Regions from separate parts of the Homo sapiens genome. Here region 1 is linked to region 2. Evidence: fine-mapped expression QTL. A gene starts in region 2. The other region holds a variant in brackets. All regions are shown on one strand. Distances are from middle to middle.

What was found.
Region 1: its variant is fine-mapped to the expression of GINS3 in skeletal muscle (GTEx, PIP 0.94).

The regions. Positions count from the first base shown.
Region 1 is chr16:58,422,898-58,431,830 of GRCh38, reverse strand. The region is part of intron 1 of LINC02137 (long intergenic non-protein coding RNA 2137); the gene reads right to left. Among named protein-coding and RNA genes, the nearest start is that of LINC02137, 6.0 kb to the right of the region's middle. RefSeq lists silencers at 5,397-5,476, 5,547-5,646. The variant T/C (reference allele first, on the strand shown) is at 4,619.
Region 2 is chr16:58,388,397-58,397,329 of GRCh38, reverse strand. It overlaps GINS3 (GINS complex subunit 3), which reads right to left and starts at 4,859. Exons shown (of 3, transcript NM_022770.4): 1 at 4,543-4,859. The coding sequence starts at 4,728. RefSeq lists enhancers at 1,392-2,037, 4,066-4,642, 4,547-5,036, 4,643-5,220.

The DNA.
Region 1 (8,933 bases), 35 kb before region 2:
GAGCTGCAAGCCCGAGAGCTGCCTGGGAGGCCAGTCAGTAAGGGGCACCATGACATATTGGAAATGCCATGAGAAGGAGGCAACCATATGAATTAATCAGAGCTCTTCTCAGGGAAAGCCGTGTGTGGGGTAGGGAGGGGTGCTTTGGTGAGCCTCTTGGAGTGAGGGAGGAAAGATGGCAAGGATGTGAGTAAGTAGTCATGACAATTGCTTGCTGGACCCTATGGCAGGTGGCTGAAGAACGCCAGGGCTTCTGTTTTGCTGAGTTAGGGGCTCAGGACAGTTGAGGAGAGGCTGGACCTTGTACCAGCCCCTCCTTCTGCAAGCTCTGACTCAGGGACAGCCTCTTACATGCCCATTAAACATCTGGCCCAGGGATACTAGTTTCAGGGTTGCCTGTCGAGGTACTCCGCAGTATCACCAGGCTCTGGCTAAAGGAACCAGTGTCTCTGGGCCTTTGTTACCAGCTTCATTCTGTCTCCTGGTAGAAGGTGCTTGTTATGAGTTGAACTGCATCTCTAAAATATATGTTGAAGTCCTGGTGTGGTGGCTCATGCCTGTAATATCAGCACTTTGGGAGGCTGAGGTGGGTGGATCACCTGAGGTCAGGAGTTCAAGACCAACCTGGCCAACATGGTGAAACGCTGTCTCAACTAAAAATACAAAAATTAGCCAGGCACAATGGCGCATGCCTGTAGCCCCAGCTACTCGGGAGGCTGAGGCTGGAGAATTGCTTGAACCTGGGGGGTGGAGGTTGCAGTGAGCTGAGATCACACCACTGCACTCCAGCCTGGGTGACAGAATGAGAATCCATCTCAATAAATAAATAAATAATAAAAAATATATGTTGAAGTCCTCACCCCCATATCAGTAAATGTGACTTTATTTTGGGAATAGGAATTTTGCAGATGTCATCAATTCAAGAAGAGCTCATTAGGGTGGGCTCTAATCCAATATGACTGGTGTCTATAAAAGGGAAAATTTGGCCACAGAGACAGCCATGCACAGAACGAAGAGAGCACGGTGACACACAGCAGAAGACCGTGTGTGACGATGGAGGCAGAGATCAGACTGACGCAGCTGCGGCCAAGGAAACCACCAGAAATTAGGAAGAGGCAAGGAAGGATTCTCCCCTAGAGCCTTCAGAGGGAGCGTGGCCCTGCTGACACCTTGATTTTGGATTTCTAGCCCCCAGAACTGTGAGAGAATAAATCGCTGTTGTTTTAAGCCACCTAGTTTGTGGTGTTTTGTTACGACAGCCACAGGAAAGGAATCCAGTGCTTCTGACACAAGAGTCGGGGAGCATTGTCCAGAAGCGTTCCTGTCTGGTAACGCACCTGCCATTGGCCAGAGTAAAGCCTGCACACAGAGCCCGTCCATGAGGAGGTTCTACAATGCACAGCCTGGTAAATTCTGGAGCCGATGACCCAGCCTCGGTTCCTGTCTGTAAAAGGAGGGGCCGGGATGGAATTAGCCCTCTTCAAATTCTAACTTGTTTCAGTTTTGTAAGACCTCCTATTCCTAGTCAGGACATAAAGACCCAAGGGACTGTCAACCATTGAGAGCTTGCTTGCCCTATACTGGGCGGGGTCCTAGGGGACTGATGGGGGCGTCTGTCTCATGGGAATGCAGCCTGTGGGCTCCCAGGACACCTCCTCTACCTGCACTGGAGGAAGCTGGCAGCATCCAAGTGATATTTTGGTGGCTTGGCTGCTCTGGAACTAATGACAAAATAGAATTCCCAACATTAAACCAGTCCCTGCTGAGCTGGACTGTCCTATGGAGCTTTCCTGTATAAATATCCCTTCTGATCAAGGTGCGGTGGCTCACACCTGTAATCCCAGCACTTTGGGAGGCCGAGGCAGGCGGATCGTTTGAGGTCAGGAGTTTGAGACCAGCCTGGGCAACATGGTGAAACCCTGTTTCAACAACAACAACAACAACAAAAATTAGCTGTGTGCCTGTAGTCCCAGCTACTTGAGAGGCTAAGGTGGGAGGATCACTTGAGCCCAGGAGGCCGAAGCTGCAGTGAGCCAAGATCGTGCCACTGCATTCCAGCCTGGACGACAGAGTGAGACCCTGTTTCAAAAAAATAATAAAAAATAAAAAATAAATATCACTTCTTAGGCGTTAAAATCCCTGAGGTTGAGCCATTTCTGATATGGAGGCTTTTACCCTCTCTATTATTTATGATGTTATTTCTATTCACTTTCTTTTTCCCTATGAGATTTAAGGGCCAAATCCACCTGCTCTTTCCATTCTCCAAAAACTCATGGAAATGAAATGGCAACAAAGAACTACTCAGTAATTTGACACTGAAGATTCTCATCTCTCCCCATTTTACTTAGACAATGTGAAATTTAGGAGGGATAAAAGTAAAGTTCTGCCCCAATGTCAAAAACAAACCAATGGCACGAGAATAGGACAGCAGAGGCGTGACTGAAGACTGAAGCGCTCAGGTCATTTCTAGCTGAATGAGCACAGCTTAATGTGCAGTTCCCAAGGATGCTGATCAAACCCAGCAGAATGCTTACTATGCACGGGTCAGCAGTGTGTGGACAGGCAGGTCGTTCTGGGATTGACATTTTGAGAAGGTCATAGAAATATTAGACAGCAGCTGGAGGGCAGTGAGCGGGATGGAAACCGCTGTGTGTATGAGTGATGGTGCATGAATTTAGAAAATGAATTTAGTCTTTGAGCCAGTGCTTTGGTCTGAAGGTTTACATCTCCCCCAGCTGTCGTGACAAATTCATATCACCAAAGTGATGGTATTAGGAAGTGGGGTGCTTTGGGAGGTGATGAGGCAGAGCCCTCATGGAGGAGGTCACAGAGAGCTAACTAACCGCTTCCACCATGGGAGGACACAGCCAGAAAGTGCCATCTATGAACTAGGAAACAGCCCTCACCAGACAAGGAATTATTGTCATCTTGATCTTGGACATCCCAGCCTCTAGAACTGTCAAATGTAAATTTCTGCTCTTTATAAGCCACCCAGGGTATGGTGTTTTTTATAGCAGCCTGAACAGACTAAGATGCCAGCAATTTCATTTCTAGGTCTCTGGCTCAGTTTGCATCTTATTGTGGCGATAACAAATCACAATAACGAACTGGGCAGGCTAAGGAGCACAAATTCATAACCTCATAGTTCTGGAGGACAGAAGTCCAATGGGTTGGCAAGGCCACAATCCTGGAGGCTACAGGGAAGACTTCATTTCCTCGCCTTTTCCAGCTTCTAGAGGCCTCCTTTGGCTTGTAGTCCTTTCAACAATGGCATCACTCTGGCCTCTGCTTCTGTCACTGCATCTCCTTCTTCCCTTCTGCTTCTGCATCACATGGCCTGCTCTGTGACTCTCTTGCCTCTCTCTTACAAGGACCCTTATGATTATAATGGGCTTACCCCACAATCCAGGATCACCTCCCCCCACCTACCGCAAGAGCCTTAATTTAAGCACGTCTGCAAGTCTCTTGTCATGCAAGGTAACAAATTCACAGGTTCTGAGCATTAGCATGTGGGCATCTTTGGAAGGCCATTATTCTGTCCTCTACACTTGCCTACAGAATACACAAGTGTGCAAGGATGTAGGAACAATCATCTCAAACAATGAAAACACAGAGACAGCCTAACATCTGACAACAGGGTTCTGGTTGGATAATGACGCAGCCATTCTATGGAATATCACACAGCCATAAAAAGATGGAGGTAGGTGACATGGAAGGATGTCCACGATGTATTATTTATTTGTTTATTTATTTTGAGACAGGGTCTTACTCTGTTGCCCAGGCTGGAGTGCAGTGGCGTGATCTTGGCTCACTGCAACCTCTCCCTCCTGGGTTCAAGCGATTCTCCCACCTCAGCCTCCCGGGCAGCTGGGATTACAGACTTATGCCACCAAACCCAGCTAATTTTTGTATTTTTTGAAAGAGACGGGGTTTCACCATGTTGGCCAGGCTGATTTCGAACCCCTGACCTCGAGTGATCCACCTGACTCAGCTTTCCAAAGTGCTGGGATTACAGGCTTGAGCCACTGTGTCCGGCCCATGATGTATTTTTGAATAAGAGATAATTTTCAGAAATTCATAATTTATTTGTTCAAGAAATGCTTTCAATGCCTACTATGTGCCAGGAGCTGAGAACACACCAGTAAGTTAAACAGGAAGAATTCATATTCACTTTCTAAAAACTGTATACAGAAATATGTGTATGCATGGGGGAGAAAAGTCTTACCTGGAAAGTAAATGGTAAGTTGTTAATAGTGATTCTCAGGAGAGGAAGAGTGGGGCATGGAGATAGTGAGGATTTGCTAGGTTTATTTTGATGTTTTCATATGGTTTTATCTTTTCAACAAGCACTTGTTATTTCTGCTAAAAACGAAATTGAACTAAGGTACAGTTATCAAGACAAATTATTATGTGAACTCTAACTTCTTGATGATAAAGCTGTACCAATCTGCAAAAGAGAAAGAAGGAAGGAAAGAAGAAGAGAGGGAAGGAAGGAGAGAGAATGGAGACAAAGAAAAGGGGAAAGGAAAGGAGGAGAAAAAGAACAAGCTGATAAGTGTTAACTTGGAGAAGGGAAGTCTTGAGGGGCACTTTGCCAAGGCTCTTGTGGTTCAGAGTG[T/C]CCCTCCGTCCCCTGCAGGAACTGGCAGCTCCTCCAGATATATTTCTTTCTGTCCTCTCTTTGGGCACCTGGCCCTGTGCCTGTGCACAGTAGGTGATCAGTGACATATTGTTGACAAGCAAAGCAACAGATGGAAATGCTGGTAATAGTGGAGAAGCCACTTCATCAAGCCAGGGCGCATTTTTGACCCCCTAAGCCATCAGGCACATTTACCAGCCTCAATTTTTTCTTTTCTTTTCTTTTTTTTTTTTGAGAAACGGTCTCGTTCTGTTATCCAGGCTGGACAGCAGTGGTGCCATCATAGCTCACTGCAGCCTCATCCTTCCAGGCTCAAGCGATCTTCCCACCTCAGCATCCCGAGTAGCTGGGACCACAACCCCAGCCTTCATACTATACCAATATTTGCTTCCTTTCTTTTTTTTCTTTTTTTTTTTTTTTTTTTTTTTGAGACAGAGTCTCATTCTGTTGCCCAGGCTGGAGTGCAGTGGTGTGGTCTTGGCTCACTGAAACCTCCAGTTCTCAGAGTCAAGCAATTCTTCTGCCTCAGCCTCCCAAGTAGCTGGGATTACAGGCACCTGCCACCAAACCCGGCTAAATTTTATATTTTTAGTAGAAACGGGGTTTTGCCATTAGCCAGGCTGGTCTCCAATTCCTGACCTCAAGTGACCCACCCTCCTCAGCCTCCCAAAGTGCTGGAATTACAGGTGTGAGCCACCTTACCTGGCCCTCCCCTCATTTATAACCATTTCAGGTCAAACTCTGGTCCTTCCCAAGTCCCTGGAACTTCCTAGTTTCTTCAAGGCACAGATTCTGCTGTTTGGGGAAGTGCGTGGAAATTCTAGCTCACTTATTTCAGCCACAGTGGTCCGCCAGATGAACCTGTGGTTTGCTACTTCCTCACCCTGAACTGTAATCTCCGAGCTGGCCTTTCTGCCCTCTGCATGTGTCTCTGAGACTGAGGCTTTGTGGTGGGACGTGTGGCAGGAAGAGGAGGGATGAGGCCTTGGGCACGGGTACCCTCTATCATGGGCACTGTGATCTCAGCCCTACATTCCCCTGATAGACACTGCCTCGGGTTGCATGCCTGGCAGATGGTTTTTCTGAGAACACCACCCAGTAACAAACAAAACAGGTGTGTGTCTTTTCATTTTACTCTTGGTTCTTAGTGTTTTAGGAAAAAAGTATCTGGATTTGAGTATCTGAAATATTCGCATGTTTTACTGAGAAAACAAGGAACCTCTGATTTTCTTGGGAAACAATGAGAGTCGTCACTTCCTTTTAGTGCTTTTAAGCACAAGTTGAAACAAGGAAAACACAATTTTGATTAGTTCTCATTGTCTTTTTGAATGCCTGCTTCACCCTTCCTAGAGCTACAGTGGTATGAAATTAACACTGCTCCCTCCCAGCACTTTGGGAGGCCAAGACGGGTGGATCATTGGAAGTCAGGAGTTCGAGACCAGCCTGGCCAACGTGGCGAAACCCCGTCTTTACCCAAAATACAAAAATTAGCCATGTCTAGTGGTGTATGCCTTTAAGTCCCAGCTACTTGGGAGGCTGAGGCACCAGAAATGCTTGAACCTGGAAGATGGAGGTTACAGTGAGCCGAGATCGTGCCAGTGCGCTCGAGCCTGGGCAACACAGCAACACTCTGTCTCAAACAAACAAAAAAAGTGTAGCTCGATTCAACCCACCAGGCCCTCCATGACATGTCCCACCCCTTCGCTGCTCTATCCTCTTCTCCTCCCATCCTCCCCCCTCCACTCAGGCAAGTTCCTGCCTCAGGACCTTTGCACATGCTATTCCCTCTGCCTGGAACACTCTCCCCTCAGGCGTCTGCATGTTTCCCTCCCTCCTTCAAGTCTTTGTGCTCCAATGTCACCTTCTCAGGGAAGCCCCCCGACCACCCTCTGTAGAACTGCAGCCCCCACCCTGTCTCAGCCCTCCTAAGCCCAGCCCTGCTTTATTTTCCTCCATAGCACTTGTCACCTCCCAATAGATCACATTTTCAGTTTGACTGTCTACTCCCTTTCTAATGGAAACTCCAGGAGGGCAAGGATTTTTGTGCATTTTCTTTACCACTGTTAACCAGTCCTAGAACCATCATTGAATCTGAGGCTTTAGAGAAGAGTTTTGCATCATGTATCCAAAATCTTATAAACATGGCCAGGCTCAGTGGCTCACGTCTATAATCCCAGAACTTTGGGAGGCCGAGGCGGGTGGATCATTTGAGGTCAGGGATTCGAGACCAGCCTGGCCAACATGGTGAAACCCCGTTTCTACTAAATACAAAAAAAAAAAAAAAATAGTGGGGCATGGTGGCGCATGCCTGTAATCCCAGCTACTCAGGAGGCTGAGGCAGGAGAATCACTTGAACCCAGGAGGCAGAGGTTGCAGTGAGCTGAGATTGCGCCACTGCACTCCAGCCTGGGCAACAGAGTGAGACTCTGTCTCAAACAAACAAACAAAAAAAAAACCAAAACCAAATCTCATAAACATGCTCATGATTCCACCCAGCTATTCTACATCTAGGAATTTATCCTTTGGAAGTAATCACAGATGTGCACAAAGATATGGTTAGAAATGTCACAAGGGCAAAACACTGGAAATAATGAGAGCTGGCATTTAATTACCACTTACTGTGTGTAGACCTTGTTGCAAACATTTTATGTGTATGAACTTATTTAAACTTCACAGCAACCCTAGAACCTGCTGATTATCGTCTGTATTTTACAAGTGAAGAAACAGGCGGAGGGTTTGAAGAGTATGTAGTAAAGCCAGGATTCAAAGTTGTGTTTCTTGTGTCTGAATCAAGAGCCCATACTCTTTTTATTTTCGAGAGAGTTTTGCTCTGTTGCCCAGGCTGGAGTGCAGGGGCGCAATCCCAGCTCACTGCAACTTCTGCCTCCGGGTTCAAGCAATTTTCCTGCCTCAGCCTCCTGAGTAGCTGGGATTACAGGTGCCTGCCACCACGCCCAGCTAATTTTTGTATTTTTAGTACAGATGAGGTTTCACCATGTTGGCCAGGCTGGTCTCGAACTCCTGGCCTCATGTGATGCACCCGCCTCAGCTTTATCAGATTCTCAAAGACCTCCAGGAACCAGGGTTGTAGAATAATTTTCCTACATAAGCAAAGTTAGGAATTGTCAATGCTGCTTTTAGCATAGTCTTAAAAAAATTTTTTACCTTCCTTCCTTCCACATAAGCTTCCCTTTTCTTGTCCCTAAATGATGTTAAGAATCTGGAATGTCACCATAGATGTATCTTTAGGCCAGGTGCAGTGGCTCATGCCTGTAATCCCAGCTTTTTGGGAGGCTGAGATGGGAGGACTGCTTGAGGCCAGGAGTTCAAGACCAACCTGGTCAACCTAGTGAGAGCCCATCTTTACAAAACAAAACAAAATCCAAGAATCTTTAATGACTTGGAAAGAGCTTTGTTGCATATAGTTAACTGCAAAAGGCAGGTTACTAAAGAGTCTACGTTCTGACCACATTTTCATTAAAAATTTATCTCTACCTATATGCATGGTAAAATGACTCAAATTGACTATGTATGTTAATATCGCCACTTCTAGGTAATGAAATTCTGGGTGTTTTAAAACTTATTTTCTGGTCTTGTTTGTATTCATTACATGTTTACAGGAATGTTACTTTTGTCATTAAATATACTTTTTGTTTTTAGAAAAAGGCAGACTTTGGGCAGAAAATTTGGTAGTCCCTATCAGAATTTTAAGAGATGTGGGTCTTGCTATGTTGCCCAGACTGGTCTCGAACTCTAGCAGTCCTCCATCTCTGCCTCCCAAAGTGCTGGCATTATAGGCATGAGCCACCGCGCCCGGCCCCCTATCAGAATTTTAAATGTACTTACTCTATGCTCCATCAATTCCACCTTTCCAGAAGTCTGCACTACAGAAATCCTTGCACATGCGGCTGCATGTAAGTCCTGTGACGTTCACCGTAACGTTGTGAAAATTTATGAACAGCCCAAATCCTTCAGAGAAGTTGAGTGGTTAAATAGAATATGATCTTTCCCTACTCTGAAAACCTCTGTGGTTGTTAAACAAGAATAAGGTAGATAGATCTCCGAGATATTGTTAGGTAAAAAAGGGAGGGCACAGAACAGAATGTATAATAGGATCCAACCTACATAAAGGACTACATGTGAGCATGAAGGCGTTGAAAGGAACTGGAGGGAAGCCATCTGTTTGTTGATGTTGTTACCTCCCGGAGCTGGGTGTGGGTGTGGGAGGCGATGGTGAAGGGGACTTGTTTTGTTCTGGTTACTTGAATCTTTCAGAAGTCTGTACATGCAGGACCAT
Region 2 (8,933 bases):
CCATCCCATCTAGGAAGTGAGGAGCGTCTCTGCCCGGCCGCCCATCGTCTGAGATGTGGGGAGTGCCTCTGCCCTGCTGCCCCGTCTGGGATGTGAGGAGCATCTCTGCCCGGCCGCCCCGTCTGAGAAGTGAGGAGACCCTCTGCCTGGCAACCACCCCGTCTGAGAAGTGAGGAGCCCCTCCGCCCGGCAGCTACACCGTCTGGGAAGTGAGGAGCGTCTCCGCCCGGCAGCCACCCCATCCAGGAGGGAGGTGGGGGTCAGCCCCCCGCCCGGCCAGCCGCCCTGTCCGGAAGGGAGGTGGGGGGGTCAGCCCCCCGCCCAGCCAGCCGCCCTCTCCTGGAGGTGAGGGGCGCCTCTGCCCGGCCACCCCTACTGGGATGTGAGGAGCACCTCTGCCCGGCCAGCCGCCCCGTCCGGGAAGGAGGTGGGGGGGTCAGCCCCCCGCCCGGCCAGCCGCCCCGTCCGGGAGGTGAGGGGCGCCTCTGCCCGGCCGCCCCTACTGGGAAGTGAGGAGCCCCTCTGCCCGGCCAGCCGCCCTGTCCGGGAAGGAGGTGGGGGGGTCAGCCCCCCGCCCGGCCAGCCGCCCCGTCCGGGAGGGAGGTGGGGAGGTCAGCCCCCCGCCCGGCCAGCCGCCCCGTCCGGGAGGGAGGTCGGGGGGTCAGCCCACCGCCCGGCCAGCCGCCCCGTCCGGGAAGGGAGGTGGGGGGATCAGCCCCCCGCCCGGCCAGCCGCCCCGTCCGGGAGGGAGGTGGGGGGGATCAGCCCCCGCCCGACCAGCCGCCCCGTCCGGGAGGGAGGTGGGGGGGTCAGCCCCCGCCCGGCCAGCCTCCCCGTCCGGGAGGTGAGGGGCGCCTCTGCCCGGCCGCCCCTACTGGGAAGTGAGGAGCCCCTCTGCCCAGCCAGCCGCCCCGTCCGGGAGGGAGGTGGGGGGGTCAGCCCCCTGCCCGGCCAGCCGCCCCATCCGGGAGGTGAGGGGCGCCTCTGCCCGGCCGCCCCTACTGGTAAGTGAGGAGCCCCTCTGCCCGGCCAGCCGCCCCGTCCGGGAGGGAGGTGGGGGAGTCAGCCCCCCACCCGGCCAGCCGCCCCGTCTGGGAGGTGAGGGGCGCCTCTGCCCGGCCGCCCCTACTGGTAAGTGAGGAGCCCCTCTGCCCGGCCAGCCGCCCCGTCCAAGAGGGAGGTGGGGGGGTCAGCCCCCCACCCAGCCAGCCGCCCCGTCCGGGAGGGAGGTGGGGGAGTCAGCCCCCCGCCCGGCCAGCCGCCCCGTCCGGGAGGTGAGGGGCGCCTCTGCCCGGCCGCCCCTACTGGAAAGTGAGGAGCCCCTCTGCCCAGCCAGCCGCCCTGTCCGGGAGGGAGGTGGGGGGGCCAGCCCCCCGCCCAGCCAGCCGCCCCGTCCGGGAGGTGAGGGGCACCTCTGCCCGGCCGCCCCTACTGGGAAGTGAGGAGCCCCTCTGCCCGGCCACCACCCCGTCTGGGAGGTGTACTCAACAGCTCATTGAGAACGGGCCAGGATGACAATGGCGGCTTTGTGGAATAGAAAGGGGGGAAAGGTGGGGAAAAGATTGAGAAATCGGATGGTTGCTGTGTCTGTGTAGAAACAAGTAGACGTGGGAGACTTTTCATTTTGTTCTGTACTAAGAAAAATTCTTCTGCCTTGGGATCCTGTTGATCTGTGACCTTACCCCCAACCCTGTGCTCTCTGAAACATATGCTGTGTCCACTCAGGGGTTGAATGGATTAAGGGTGGTGCAAGATGTGCTTTGTTAAACAGATGCTTGAAGGCAGCATGCTCGTTAAGAGTCATCACCACTCCCTAATCTCAAGTACCCAGGGACACAAACACTGCGGAAGGCCGCAGGGTCCTCTGCCTAGGAAAACCAGAGACCTTTGTTCACTTGTTTATCTGCTTGACCTTCCCTCCACTATTGTCCTGTGACCCTGCCAAATCCCCCTTTGCGAGAAACACCCAAGAATGATCAATTAAAAAAAAAATATATATATATATATACAAATATTACAGAAGAATTTCAAATGTACAAATAGAAAAAAAAAAAAAAGAAAATTTAGACAAAAAAAAAATACAAAAATTAGCTGGACATGGTGGCATGTACCTGCAATACCAGCCACATAGGTGGCTGAGGTGGGAGGATCTCTGGAGCCTGGGAGGTCAAGGCTGCAGTGAGCCATATCACACCACTGCACTCCAGCCTGGGCAACAGAGCAAAACCCTGTCTCAAAAAAAAAAAAAAAAAATTAGATAAAATGGTCAAAGTTTTAGTTAAAAACCAAATATACCAAAACTAACACAAGAAGAAATCAAGTCTGAATAATCCTATAAATGAAATTAAATGTCATACAAACCTTCCTACACAAATCTCCCATGCAGAAGGATTCTAAAGATTTAATGTAGACACTCTGCACTCAAAGAAGTGGAACATAACTCCCTACTCCTTCAGTGTGACAGTGATAATGACTTCCATCCAAAGAGTACAGTATGAAAAGGTGGAGAAACCTAATGAACATTACCTCTGCCAAGGTTCAAATGAACAGTACAAAGTCCTGTTGATAGTAGGCACCCTTAATATGTGATGAAAATGGCACTTTACCTCTGTGGTCTTCCTCCCTAAAGCTGATAATCAAGTCTAATGCTGAGAAAAAAAGAATAAAAAACAAAAACAAAGAAGGCTGGGCGAGGTGGCTTACGCCTGTAATCCCAGTACTTTGGGAGGCTGAGTTGGGTGGATCACTTGAAGTCAGGAGTTCCAGACCAGCCTGGCCAACCTGGTGAAACCTCATCTCTACTAAAAATACAAAAATTGGCTGGGTGTGGTGGTGGGCGCCTGTAATCTCAGCTACTTGGGAGGCTGAGGCAGAATTGCTTGAACCCAGGAGGTGGAGGAGGCTGCAGTGAGCTGAGATTATGCCACTGCACTCTGGCCTAGATGACAGGGTAACTCCGTGTCAAAAAAACAAACAAAAAAACAAAACCAAAAACAAAACTACCCCCAAACCAAAGATTTCCAACTGAGGAACATTTTACAAAATACCTGACCACCACTCCACAAAACCGTCGAGGTCATTAGAACAAGGAGGTCTGATTAATTGTCACAACCAAGAGAAGGCTAAGGAAACATGTCTACTAAATGCAGTGTGGTATCCTAGGTGGAATCCTAGAATAGAAAAAGGGCATTAACTAAAAACTAAGGAAATATGAATTAAGTATGGGCAGCATAGCGCCATGTTTACCAGTGTGTATGGGAACGAAATCCTCATCTGCTAGGATGAAGTCAACAGATAATGTCTACATTAAAAAAAACAACCCAACAAGGTAAGTTTAAGAATATTATTTAGAAATATGAAGATGAATCTTGAAGACACCACTAAAAAAGGTACATGAGCCCTGTGGACTTGGAGGGGGAAGTGGGAAAAGGAAGGCAGGACCTGCTATTTTTTTTCTTATAAATCTTTTGGTACTATTTGACTTTTTTTTTTTTTTTTTTTGAGATGGAGTCTCACTCTGTCGCCAGGCTGGAGTGCAGTGGCACAGTCTCGGCTCACTGCAACCTCTGCCTCCTGGGTTCAAGAAATTCTCCTGCCTCAGCCTCCAGAGTAGCTGAGATTACAGGCGCCGGCCACCACACCCAGCTTTCTAGTAGAGATGGGGTTTCACCATGTTGGCCAGGATGGTCTGGATCTCTTGACCTCGTGATCCGCCCGCCTCAGCCTCCCAAAGTGCTGGGATTACAGGCGTGAGCCACCGCATCCGGCCTATTTGACTTTTAAAACGTTGGTTATGTATTACTTTGATAAAAATTAACTTGAAACAAACAGACCAAACAATAAACATCGTTCTATACAAAACTTAGGTGAAACAGGATATCCAAATTAATCATTACAAGCCATGTTCCTGGGACAATTTTATATTTGAAGCCATATGGCCTTGGGTTCCGAATCCCAGCTCACCACTAACTGAAGCCCTGGCCAAGTGACCCAGCCTTTCTGGTTGCTGAAGGATTAAAGGGAAAAGCTTACTCCCCACACCCAACCATGCTGCCACTAAGTAAGCCTCAGTAGGGCTTACTGATCCTGTCATCATTATGGAGGAATGAATTTAGCAACTTGGGGTTCCTACTTATCACATGCTCTTACAGAACCCAAAGCTGTTTTAAGGCAAACATGATCAGAACTCTAATTCTTAAGTATTCAGCTGGAGCCAATCTTTAAGCATTCAACACACGTTGCATGGGGTAGGGGGAAGACACTAATTTGGACAGTTTCAAAAAAGAAATCAATGTTGGAGGCTGCCTGGCGACCTAGGATAAATGTAGTTTCACCACAGATGGCGAACAAGAAGTCTGGAGACCACCCCGAGCGCGAAGGGACCCCCGCGGAGTTTCCGAGAAGTCGTTAGCGCCTTCGGCCCTGGCTCCTCGAAAACTACAAATCCCAAAGGGCAGCGCGCCCCGATGCGGCGTCCCAGGGCCGAGGGGCCCGCCGGGAGCTGCAGTCTTTCCGGGCAGGACCCCGCACCCAAAGGCTCACCTGTGGGACCGCGTTGTCAGTCTCGGCGCCTGCGCTCCGCTCCAGGAAGAAAGCGCCAAGGCGAGGCATGGCGGTCTCCGTGCGCACCGGCAGCTTCTCGTGGGACATCAGGATGTCGTCCAAAGAAAGAAAGTTCTCCTCAGGCCCCAGCGCACCCGACTCCACTCGGAAATAAGCCTCTGACATGGCGGCCACTTGAGCTTCTCCGCTTCCACTCGCGTGATTCGGAGGAGCCTCAGGAGTTAGGGGTGTACAAGACGGGGAAGCGGAGACTGGGCAGGATGGTTGGGGTCAGGAAAGTGGATTGAAACTCGTTTCCCGCGCCCGGGGACGCATCAGACAGGAGCAGTCAATTCGGGCGGTACCGCCCAGGCAGAAGCAATCGATCAAGTCTGCAGATTTAGAGCAGCGGGACACGGCTGGGGAGCGGTAGGTGGGGGCGCCGGAAGTTCTCTTCCCTCCGCTTGCTGCACGGTGTGGGAACGTTACGAAGAAGCTGGAACGCTCGTTGAAGCTCCTGGACCCATTTGTACTGGATTGTGTTCATGTGATCCTTAACTATTTATATGAAATTAAAAACACTTTGCAACACTTTTAGGGGTTTAAAATAAAAGCATCTTGTGCCCTTCACTCCAGGCCTAAGTCCGACCCTTTCCTACAGTTTTTTTCACTATGCAACTCCGTTAATCTTAGTATTTGAAAGAAATGTTAAACAAACAAAAACTTCCAGCACTATCCCCAGCGAGTTATTATGGTCTAGATGATGAACTAGTGTGTTGTATTTTGTTAGTATTTTGGTGGGGGTTGGACGGGGTGGGTAGAGGGGTGGAGCACTAGACTGCACATGGCTTGCTAAGGTTGTGAGTATACTTCAGGGTGTCTTAGCTCATCATCAACTGACAATCTCCTTTTGTGGCTCTGAATTTAAATCCCTAAAAATGGAAATCCAATTGGTCCAGTTTATTGATTGGTCCAGGTACGCCACAATGGTCATAGATCTCCAGCCACCCTGTAGATGGGGGTGCCTGTGTTGGGTGCGATCACTATCCAGTGACCAGGGGAAGGACCATGGTCGCATAGTACCAGGTTTGGTGGCTCTCCTCAGCCAGGGCTATGGGTGGCGGCATATTGTTGAGAGATGCACTACAGAACTTACTTCGTCTAGAGCATTTCTGGGGCTACTGGAGCCGGGAGTAAAGGGTGTGTGTGAAGGGAGGTGTGTATTAACCATGGATTTTAGTTTCTGTTTTCTGTATTTTATGATGCTTTGACATCTTGGGGCCTTGGGGACCTGGGGAGGAATTGCCCCTTTCAGAGTTAGCTAATTCCTAGAGATAGCAAACAACTTGCTTGTGAACACCCCTTTCATTTACAAACCAACCAACCCAAGCCTATATCCCCACACCATCTTTATCCATCTCACACACCAATATTTTCCCTGCCCCAAGTCACTGTAATAAACCACCCCATGGCCAAGTACCAGACAACTAAAATTCACCTCTATATCCCAGAGCTTGCCAACATTATTCAAATTATTCAATCCTAAGCTTGTTCAGACTTCCCTTCCCTGCTTCGCCCATTCCTTCCCACGGCAATAAAGGCTCTGGGCTTTCTCCTCGCTCTCTCTACCTCCTCATTGACCCTAATACTTTCTCGTGTGGCCGTAGGCACAGCCCCTTCTCTTGAGAACTATAATAAAATTTTCAAAGGCATTGGCCACTAACTCATTGATTGTCATCACCCAGTCACCTTTATAAATGAAATTCTGAGGACAATGAAAACAAGGTGCAGTGGGGTGGAAAGGAATGGCCAAACTGTGGAAAATCTTGGTACCATTCTAAGGAGTTAGGCCATTCCATAGAAAATGGGAGGAAAATGTAAGGCAAATAATAACATAAATCTGGGCTTCAGGAAGAGAATTCCAGCAGTAGATAAAGAAGAGAGAGATTAGATGCTTGGAAGCTGTTCAGTGGGCAGTATTTGGCAACCAATTGGATATAGGAAGTGAAGTATAGTGAGTAGTCAAAAGATTCAAGTTTTGAACGTGGCTGACCAGGTGGATGGACATGTCATGAATAGATACACAGAACACAGGAATAGGGGCAGCTGGAGGGAAGGGATGAGTTCAGTTTGGGACACATGGTGTCCAAGAGCTACTAGACAGGAAGGTCTGCAGCCCAGTGGAGAAAGCAGCCTAGAAGCTTTAGAGAGGAGGCACACTGAGAGGCAGTTATATGAAGGTTTTTTCCTTTTTCATATTTTAAATGTTCAGTTTGTGATACAGTCCAATGTAAAAATAAACACAATCTGCAGTGATAATTTAGAATTTCTCTGATGACATGGAATATATGGTACTGGATGTAGTTTGAGACAGAAATATAATTTGGCTAATTGAAGGCAATGTTATTTACTGCCAAGGAGAGTAAGCTATTTTTTATGCTGATATAATTAAGATAGATGCATACTGATTTATTGATGCCAAAGAAAGGCATTATTTTTGTACAGAGACCACAATACTGGCTCCAAACTCAAATACCACTATTATTTTAATAATACAGTAACAGGCCAATGTTTAACATAAAATCAGATTGCCTTGTTTGTCTTACTTAATGTCTTGGCTCATCATGAAACTATCATTGTGTATATATTGTTCTATTTAAACTGTCCTCTCCTTGAACTAATAAACAAGTGAATAAATCAGAAAAAGGTGAAATTAGTGAATGTTTGAGCTTATGATGCTGAACTGCATCAATTCATTTAACAAAAGTGGCATGTGGTTTTCAAGCATAGATATGTGTTAATAGCTTAAATCCTAAGAACCAGGAGTATTTCTGTTCCCTGAGAAAGCTGTGTTCCTTGGCACCCAGCCAACCAATCAATGTACCAGTATTATGCTGAACAGAATTGCATTATACTGATAATATTCACAGTATATTTGGTATATTTACAATATACAAAATTTAGTATTCTGAAAAGTGTCTGCTGGATTCTTGAAAACAGAGTATTTTTTTCATTGTAATCCTTTCAAGATTTCAGAATCATAGAACTACAGTGTTTTAGAACTTAGAACAAGTGTTTTGGTGAACAGGGCAGGGGCCTCTTTAGCTTTTATGACTTGCCCTCAAAAGTCATAGCCTCCAAAGAACACACAGGCTTTAGATGAGCAAAACCTCAAGCAGTTTTACGTCTGTTCTTTTGAATACCAGTGCTTTCTAAATTTCTTTCATTGAGTGGGGAGGTTGTGGTGCAAGTGACAGAAATGCAAATCTGGGGGTGGGGAGAAAAAGAAGAAATATGAAAAACTGTACACATGGTTCATTGAAAGAAAAAGAAAGAAAAAAGAAATGTATTGGGCGCCATCCTTCCAGTTGCTTGGTCAGGTCAAAATTTGGGGGTTTTCCTTGATCTCCTCCCCTAACCCTTACACTTTGTAATGGCCCATCAGCTAAATGGCCCATCAGCAAATGTTGACTTAACATTCATATTTCTAGAATCTGACCATTTCTCATCATTCTGGTTTAAGCCACCATCATCTCTTGCTTGGATTTTTGCATTAGCTCTCTAGTCTTCTTGCTTCTGCCCATGACCTCCCTATTGTTCCTTAAGCATCCCAGACACACTCGGTCCTCAGTGCTTTGCCTTGTTTGTTCCACTACCTGAATTGTGTTTCTCTTGGATTTCCACATGGCTTGTCCCTTTCAGGTCTTTACTTAAAAGTCACTGTCTCGATGAGGTCTTCCCTGGCCGCCCTATCTAAAATTTTAACTATTTAACAACAATTTTAATGACTCACACACTTGATATCCCCTGCTATGGTTTGACTGTATCCCCCAAAATTCATGCATTGGAAACTTAATCCCCAATACAATAATGTTGGGATGTGAGTCCTAATGGGAGGTGTTTAGATCATGAGGGCTCTACCCTCAAGAATGGATTAATGCCATTATAGAAAGGGATTGGAGGAGTGGGTTCTCTCTCTACACATGCCATGTGAGGACACAGAATTTGTCCCATTGGCCCTTCTGACTTCCACCATGTGAGGACAGCAAGAAGGCCCTCATCAGACGCTGGTGCCTTGATCTTGGACTTCCCAGCCTCCAGAATTATAAGAGAATAAATTTCTGTTCTTTAGAAATTACCCAGTCTCAGCTATTCTGTTACAGCAGCACAGAATGGACTAAGACACCCCGTTTTCCCTTCAGTACTGATCAGTCTCTAACTATATATTTTACTTATCTTGTTTATTTTACTTTATTATTTTTCTTTTGAGAAGGAGTTTCTCTCTTGTTGCCCAGGCTGGAGTGCAATGGCACAATCTCTGCTCACTGCAACCTCCACCTCCAGGGTTCAAGTGATTCTCCTGCCTCAGCTTCCCGAGTAGCTGGGATTAC